Regions from separate parts of the Homo sapiens genome. Here region 1 is linked to region 2. A link means that fine-mapping ties the variant in region 2 to the expression of a gene that starts in the linked region. Tissue or cell type: lung. Region 2 holds a variant in brackets; the other region holds the start of a gene. All regions are shown on one strand. Distances are from middle to middle.

The links. PIP is the estimated chance that this variant, and not a neighbour inherited with it, causes the effect.
Region 1: it holds the start of AKAP11, and the variant in region 2 is fine-mapped to the expression of AKAP11 in lung (TOPMed, PIP 0.94).

The regions. Positions count from the first base shown.
Region 1 is chr13:42,270,347-42,274,506 of GRCh38, reverse strand. AKAP11 (A-kinase anchoring protein 11) reads right to left here and starts at 2,355. Exons shown (of 13, transcript NM_016248.4): 1 at 2,279-2,355. RefSeq lists a silencer at 2,096-2,445 and an enhancer at 2,986-3,165.
Region 2 is chr13:42,337,230-42,341,580 of GRCh38, reverse strand. No RefSeq gene overlaps it. Among named protein-coding and RNA genes, the nearest start is that of AKAP11, 67 kb to the right of the region's middle. The variant C/T (reference allele first, on the strand shown) is at 1,784.

The DNA of each region.
Region 1 (4,160 bases), 67 kb after region 2:
TTTCCATGTTGGCCAGGCTGGTCTTGAACTCCTGGTCTCAAGTGATCCACCCGCCTCAGCCTCCTAAAGTCCTGGGATTACAAGTGTAAGGCACCAAGCCTGGCCCAGAAGTATTTTTTTAATAAACTTTTATATGTAAGGATGACTGGGAGAATCGAGACACTTGGATCTTTCCAGGCTGTTTTTAAACTGATAAAGCATTTTTCTTTCTCTTCCCCATATTACCAGCTCATTGACCCTTAACTCATGCCCAGGCTTAACTTAAAGCTTTTCTCGACCTGTCCTCACCCTTCAATCCTTCCAGGTAGTTGATTAATAAAATGCAGACCACAAGACAGGAAAAAAAACAAAATCAGTTACCCTATCCAAAGTTACTTCAATTACTTTTGAAAAACCAAACACCACACGCCCTACAAGTTTGAAACCCTTGCCAAAAGGTTATGAAGACCAGCCAAAAAATTTATTTTTCTACTTCTGAAAATTAGTTTGCTAAGATGGAGTAAGAAGGAATTTTTTCTAATCAACACTGGTCTCCTCTGCCCATTCACAAAGAGATATTTTCTAAGTCTTTCACATTTTTGTCACGTATAGACAGAATTCCTCTACCTATTTACAACTGGCATTTTCTCTTAAAACGGCCTTTAATATATTGTCCAAATTGGTTTGAGTTCCTTTTCCAGACAGTAAGTTCCTAAAATTAAAAAATAAAAAAATTAAAAGTACCGTATTTTTTCCAGCCTCTAAAGGCAAAAGAGGACTTCTTCAGCTTCTAGACTTATCCCTGGAGTTCAGGGGGCTAGAGAAGGCTAGAGAATTTCTCACTATGGTTCCATGTCTTAGGCAACTTCCCATATCCTCAACAACTGCAAAATATCACTGGCCTAGGAGTCCACTGCTAGGCCCTTATCAATATTGTCGATACTGCAGTTATGTGGGTACATACATTAGTCTCTAGCTCAGCTTGGGAACCCACTTCTTCCCTGATTTCCTTACATTCTTTGACCTTTCATAAATTACTGTTACAGCTACAATAGTGACATTCACTGTCCACCCCTGGGTCAGTTTTGTCAGGAGGAACAACGACAAGAAAAAATGAATAATCAGGGTACCGTTTGAAAAAGTAAATGTGTTTTTCAAAAAAAAAAAAAATCATTCAATTGCACTATTTTAACTGACACCAATCATGCCAGGCACTGGGCTGCCATCCTAAAATGATGACATTAAAAAAAATATATCTGTGCATTACTGATACCCCATTTTTTCTTAGTACTCCATATTTTGAGTATTTTCAGACATAACAAAATAACAATCGACATGACATTTCTAAAACAGTGGGAAGCAGCTAAGCAAAACGAGCATTTTGCAAGCGATTGAAAAGCTGAAAAGAGAACAGGAATTAACTCCAGTTTGTACTAAAGCTATTAGGTATGTATCTCAGCAGTCTTTCTCACCATGAAACTCCTTAACATCTAAAGCTAAACCACATCCAACTTTATATGGTTTTAGAAGACAGACAAAGCAGAGAAAAAAAATGAAAGCTGGTAATATGGGGAAGAGAAAAAATGTTAGCTTTTACTGTCATTGTCACTTTTTAATACTTCGGTTACATCTACATATTTTTTATAAAGCAGCTTAGATGCCTGGATTAACAGCAGTATACTCAATCCATTCGGGGTACTTTATGGCCAGCCTTAAGCCATTAACAGCCTAGGAGAGTATTTGACAGCAAATCCAAATATCAATACTCTGAGGAGCCCCTTGACGCCTTCCGTTTACAAGATCTGAGCAGCGCCTGCTTCCAAGGCTCCGGGGGTCTGACAGTGAAGGATGCTGTTCGGGAACAAAGTGCAACGTCCTCCCAACCGCTGCAAATGTTCCTGTGCGCACACCACGAACACACACTAAGCACGCGCACCACGCACCCGGGGGGCCGTCTCTGAAGACCACCCCGGGGATGGAAACAGCCTGTCATTAAAAGGGGCGGCAGCTCCACCGCCACACTTGGGACCCCAGGAAGACGCGTCTCGAGACCCAGCACCTCCCTCTACTCTGGGCCCGGTGCGGTGAGTTTCCTCCTTCGGCCGCGCTCCTCCCGCCCTCCTCCCTCCGCCATGCGAAGGCGCAGCTCTCGGGCGGCCCCGAAGCCAGAAGGGGGACCAGCGGCAGGCGGAGGGGCTGGAGCGCCGGAGCCGGGCCGCTCCATCCATGCCGGCCGCACACCCGCCGCCACCCCATCTAAACGCAGCCTCCGCGGCGAGCACGTCGGCGCCCGGCTCACCTGGGGGCCGCAGCCTCCGCAGCTCACAGACATGTCACCGGCCTCAACGACCCGTGAGCGAGCCGGGCAAGCAAGCTGGCCCCCTCCCGCGCTGACCCCCAGCCCTCCCCCTCCCAGCCCCGCGGCCCGCCCCCGCCCTGCCCACCCCTCGGCTTCCGCCGCCGCCGCCGCCGCCGCAGCTCCGGCCCGCAACACCGCCTACTCTCCACGCCTCCCACTCTCTCTCGCGAGAGGGCAGCGCGCCTCTCGCGAGAAAAATTCCGCGGCCGAGCCCGCGCAAAAGTGGGTGGGCGTTTAAAAAGGGAAAGAAGGAACAGGAAAAAAAGCCTTCCCACGTGCTCCAGTGCAGCCCGCGGAGCAGCCCGCGGGGCAGCCCCGCTGGTCACATGACTTAAAGGGGGCCTCTCCATTGGCCGGGACCCACTCAGCCTTGGGAGCTTTAAATTCGAGGGCGACCTACGAACCTGCGGCGGACGTCTTGCGCGCTTCCTGGTCCGTTGCCTTGGAAACGGCTTAACCCTTCCCTCTGGCAAGTCCCCAGGCCTTGGCTTGCTCCGCAGATTTGGTTTCAGGCTCTGCCTCTTTTCCCTCGACCCCTTAGTCTTAACAGCCTGGGGCCAGCTGGGCTCCTTCTTCGCCACAAGGCTAGTTTTGCTTTCTTCCGAAGCCCGGGGCCCTTCCCAAAGTGGCAGCCCCACCAGATCCGAAGGCCCAAGGAAGGCTCATCCTTTCTGATGGCTCCGCCCCTTCTCCCAGCATCTCCGGGGAGGACCACTCACAGCGCACCGGGCAACCAGCCCTATCCCAGCCAAGAAGTAGCTTCCAGGGTTCTCAGGGCCCTAGTGCTCACCCTGATGTCTTTACGTGGTATGGAAATCGGAAAGTAAAGCTTTGGTCACTGGGAAGCCTAGCCAGAGATGAAAAGCTGTTATGGTGATTATTTTCACCTAAAATCGGAAGGGCCAGTCCAGTCAAATTGCCCTGTCTCCTAAAGGGCATCTGTTCCTCAAGAGTGGAAACACCTGGCAATAAGAAAGACATTTTTGAGTGTATCCTCGTTATGAGTTAAGTTTTGCCCTGTTCAGAGGAGAGGGTCACGGAAGAAAGGGTGCATTCGTTTGTTCATTTCTTCATTCAACAAACACTACTCTAGGCTGTTGATTGAACAATGATGAAGACAAGTAGTGTAGATTCTAGGGAACTTATCTGAGGGTGAAAAGAAAAAAAATCTGTTGGTTTTAAGCTGTATGCAAAGAAGTTACAATAAGTGACGTGATGGTGATGGTGACTGAGTGGCTAGTAAAGGGGATGCCCTTTTAAGGAGGAGATATTTTAGCAGCGATTTGAATAACAGACGCAAAAATCAGAGCATAGAGCATTCCAGGAAAAGGATAACACTAATTCAAAGGCCCTAAGTAAGGATCTATTCTAGTGCATTTGAGGGAAGAAGAAATGAGAAAGTAAACTTTCTTGAGCCTGGAGATGGAAACTGTAAGAGTTAAAGAAAGAAACACAAAAAGCAGCTTAACAGAGACAGGTTTATTTTGGAGAATAAACCTGAGAGGGGCTTCTGGCCGATTTCGGTCAGGAGTGTTCTCTCTTACAGACTAAAGGTATTTAGTGGTTTAGGGAGGGAGAGCATATTGTAGACTTGGAATGTTTCTGGGTGGAGGAGAGTTTTATTGTCAGGGGTGTAATGTCTCTGGTTGGAGGGGAGGCATATTTCTGATCAGAGTGGGGTTTATCTCAGGGTTGGAAAGTTTCTGGTCAGAAGTGTTATTTGTGGTTTATGGTCATGCTGACATTAGCCATTAGGCTGATGTTTCTGGGGCTGGATTTAGGCGGTTTTTAATCAAGGGGAACTTAAAATGGCGGTGCTTGT
Region 2 (4,351 bases):
CAGGCTCACCCAAACCCTGGCCTTCCCCTCAATGACCTCACCCCCACTCCAGAGCCAGCCCTGGGTGTTACTGCCCATGGGTGTTTCTGACTCTTCCTCTCTCAGAAGTCACCAGAAAATCCTAAGAAGTGGTTGATATGGCTTAAGATCCTCTTTGATAGGGGCTGGGCTAACTCAACAATTGTTATCCACACCCAGTGAGGTGCCTGTGGCCCAAAAGCCTTGTGGTTTCCAGGAAAATGTTTCATAGATGATTCTCCTCAATTTTTAGTCTCTTTAAAAAAAAATCACTACTTTTTTAAATTGACAAAAAGTATATGTGTCTATGGTGTACAACCTGATGTTTTAAAATGTATATACATGTGGATGGCTAGATCAAACTAATTAACTTATGCATCACCTCATGTACTTCTCATTATGATTTTTGTGATAACACCTAAAATCTGCTCTTTCGACAATTTTCAAGTGTACAATACATTGTTATTAACTATAGCTACCATGTTATACAATAGATCTCTTGAACTTCTTAGTCTCTTGATTGGATTTAAATAACTGCCTCTCTGTACGTGCCTGGGCTATAGATGTTACCAAATAAACAGAGAGATTTTGAAGATACATACACATTCTTTAGTGTGATTTTTCTTTTGACAGCTTTGTTCCACATCCAACAATAAGCGGGACATTTAAAATTTCTGGTCTTGATGGCCGAAAATGATAAATCTTGGTTTTTTTCAGTATGATAGAGCTGGTCAAAAATGTTAATTCCTGGAGCATCTTGTAGTGGCAGAAAGTGCCGGAAGGGCTCCCAAAAACATCACAAGAAAGGGGATACATCAAAGAGACATGGGATCCCACTGAAAGAGTTCCCAATGGACAAAGCTGGAACAATCTGATTAACAAAGTAGCACTGGAGTATAACTTGATATTCATGAGTCTATACTGACATAAATAAATGAACATATAAATAAACAAGTGGGGGAGAATAGATAAATCTCTAGACAGAAGAATTCCATCATGTATGTAGCTACTCCCCCTCAGGGAGGTGGAGTACAACTCCCACTCCTTAAGTGCGGGCTATCCACAGTGACTCCCCTCCAAAGAGTAAAGTATGAAAAGGTGGAAAAAAGAATCACTTTACAGTAGAAAAACCTGTCAAGACTACCTCAGCCAGGTCATCAAGGTGAACATCAACTGTGAGTTGCGTTGAGGGTGCCACTGATGCAACGTGATGAGAAGGGCACTTTGCCTCTGTGATCTTTCTTCCAGAAACCCATAACCTCAGTTAAAACATGAGAAAAACATCAAACAATTCAACTAAGGAACATTCTACAAAATACTCTCCAGGACCCTTCAAAACTATCAAAGGTCACTGAAAACAAGGAGAGTCTGAGAAACTGTCTCAGCCAAGAGGAGCCTATGGAGACGTAACAATTAAATGTAACGTGGCATCCTGGATGGAATCTTACAGAAAAAGGACATCAGGTCATAGAGTATTGACTTTGGTTAATCATGAGATTGTGACAAATGCACCTAATGTACATTCATACATTCAGATTTGCAAAAAAATTTTAAAACTAGTACAAAGCATTCCCATATACCTCACACCTAGCTTTCCTTATTAATATCTTACATTAAGATACAGATAATGTACATTTATAATGTGGTACTGAAATATAACTTGGTATTCATGAGTCCATACTGACATAAAAAAATGATCAAATAAATAAACGAGTGGGGGAGATGTACATTATCTGCATTCTAATGTAAGATGTTATTTGTACAT[C/T]ACAAAGTACATTACCTGTATCCTTCATTAGGATTTACATTGTACATTACATTATGATACAGATAACGTATATCGTACAAATGTACATTTTATATTACTTACATTGCACATTTGTACAAATGTATATTATATGTATCCTAATGTAAGATATTAATAAGGAAAACTGGGTATGAGGTATATGGGAACTCTTTGTACTATTTTTACAACTTTTTTGCAAATCTGAAACTATTCTAAAATTTAAAGTTTATTTAAAGAAATTTGGATTCCTGAGTGCCCCATCCCCAGAGGCTGTGCTTCAGTATATCTGATCTAAGACTCGTCAGCTGGTAGGGGAGTAAGCTAACCAGGTGATTCTGTTGCAGGTTGCATCTGCAGTTTTCTAAAAATCTACAATCCAGGATCTATTTGTTTAAATACAAAAGCAACTGGCCATTGAAATGTCTACCTCCTCTACGCTTGAGTGCCAGCAGCTCCAGAGACAAAAATGACTGCCTCCTACTTGCCTGACCCAAGGGTACCATTCCCAGTGCTGGACTACTCCAGAAATGTTGTCATATTATGCCATGGCCGGTCACCAAAGGCCACATTTCCACAGGTTTTGACAACCCCCAAGTACAATCGCATTCACAAAAATAAGCTTTTAAAGCAGTGATGATGTAACAAACAGTCCTGTGGCCTCCAGCTCTGTGAACTAGTGAAGTAAAGAAAATGAAAAGAGAATAAAAGGTAGTGCTTCCAGCAGCCCTCAAACTGAACAGATTAGTGCAGGGAAAAAAGCTACTCATTCACCAGGAAGAGCACGGGCGGGAGGAACCATGCACATCTTCAAGGCTCAATCCAACTGTGCTTGGTTGTGCATGGTCTAATGGTACTCTCCAAAACCCTCCGATATTTATATATGGTCAATTAAAGCATAATAATTTTAGCTAAGGAGATGGTCTTCAATATTAAATAGGAGACTTGTGGAATTATTTAAATAGTTTGGTTGGAGAAGGTAAACCTATATGGCCATTATAAATCTTAACCATATCATTAGAATAGGTTGCTGTCAACTAGTATAGAACAGTTGGATTGTGTCTGTCTTATTTTCTCCATGGGTATTCAATCCCTTGATCCCTTCATTTAGGCGACCTGATTTTTGGCAGGTGTGTTATTCATTTCCTATGAATATGACATTTTCATAGTGAAAAGATGATCAGTTACTCCCAGATAATATCATTTGTCTTAATTTGCAGACTTTCCTGAAGCATCAGGAAAAACGTAACAGATGGGTGGTGTGTGTCTGTGTGTGTGTGTGTGTGTATGTGTGTATTTTCACATGGGCCACCCGTACCGGGGGCCAGACAAATGAGTTCAGCCTGTGTACCAGGCAACAGTCTCCACCAACAATGTTTTCATTACTAATTCTTTCTTGCTCCCAGGATCAAATTGTAACACTCTGTTTTTAACCAAAATACAATGAATTCTCAGCCTAACCAACCTCAGAAGGAGACTTACTGTAATTTCCGACAGGCTAGCACTCTGTCAGAGAGCTCATGAGCAGGTTTGCTTTTGGAAAACAGCCTAGGGTTGGAGATTTTTGGTCTGAAGTAGGGAAACGTAGAAAAAAATTCATTGAAGAAATTTAGCCCAAATCCATGTTGCCAACCTCAAATGATTAGTTTCCATATAGAAAACAAAAATAAAGATGAGGACAAGATAAAGTTTATTCCTCAGACTGCTCTACTGCATGAATCATCCAAACCCAGTAACCAGGATATTTCCGTCCGCAATACCTCAAAACAGACTCAAATGGCATTGAAATAAATTGTGTTTCCCCATTTTTAATGGCACAAAGTTCATTTGAGTTAAGCAAATGACATCATATGGGGGGAAAACTGTAACCTTTAGTTACCTGTAACCATAGCAGACACTCTGAAATATGATATTTGAACTTATAATACCTGTTAAACCACAACAGATTCTGCAAATGTCAGTGTCAGGCTGTTAGGGAAGCAACTGATCAGAATCCCAAATCCTGTCCCAGAATCCCAAGCCAGGATAATTTGTTATGGAAGCAAATTATTCTTGATATTTTAAAAATAATTCTAAGTAGAGTCACTAATTAATCCTCACCTCGTAGCGCTCAGTCCTGATAAATGTAAACACTTGCCTCTTAGCAGGCATGATGAAGGGGACTGCAGGGAAGCTAACTTGTTCATGGAGCAAGTCAGAGGAGAACGCACATTTCAAATGGAAAGTTCATCTCCTAATTCTGAGCTCAAGTCATTTTTCTCTGCATTGCTGAGAAATTGGCACCGAGATAAGAAAGAGGCCAAACTGAAATCATTACATGAATGCTTCTTGGTATTTGGGCTCTGATACCCAAGGCTGCCTTTTGGTTTGTAATTCTTTTTGAGATCTTTCTTTCCTGGAAATGGTAAATGCCCGTGTCCATGAGGTGTAAGGTGGGGCAACAAATACTGGTCAAACGGGAAAAGACCCAGTTGTTGCATCCTGTTTTCTGTTAGACCACAGTTTCAAGTTCCTTCAGGGCAATTGTTTCAAGACTAATTTTCCACCCTTTGG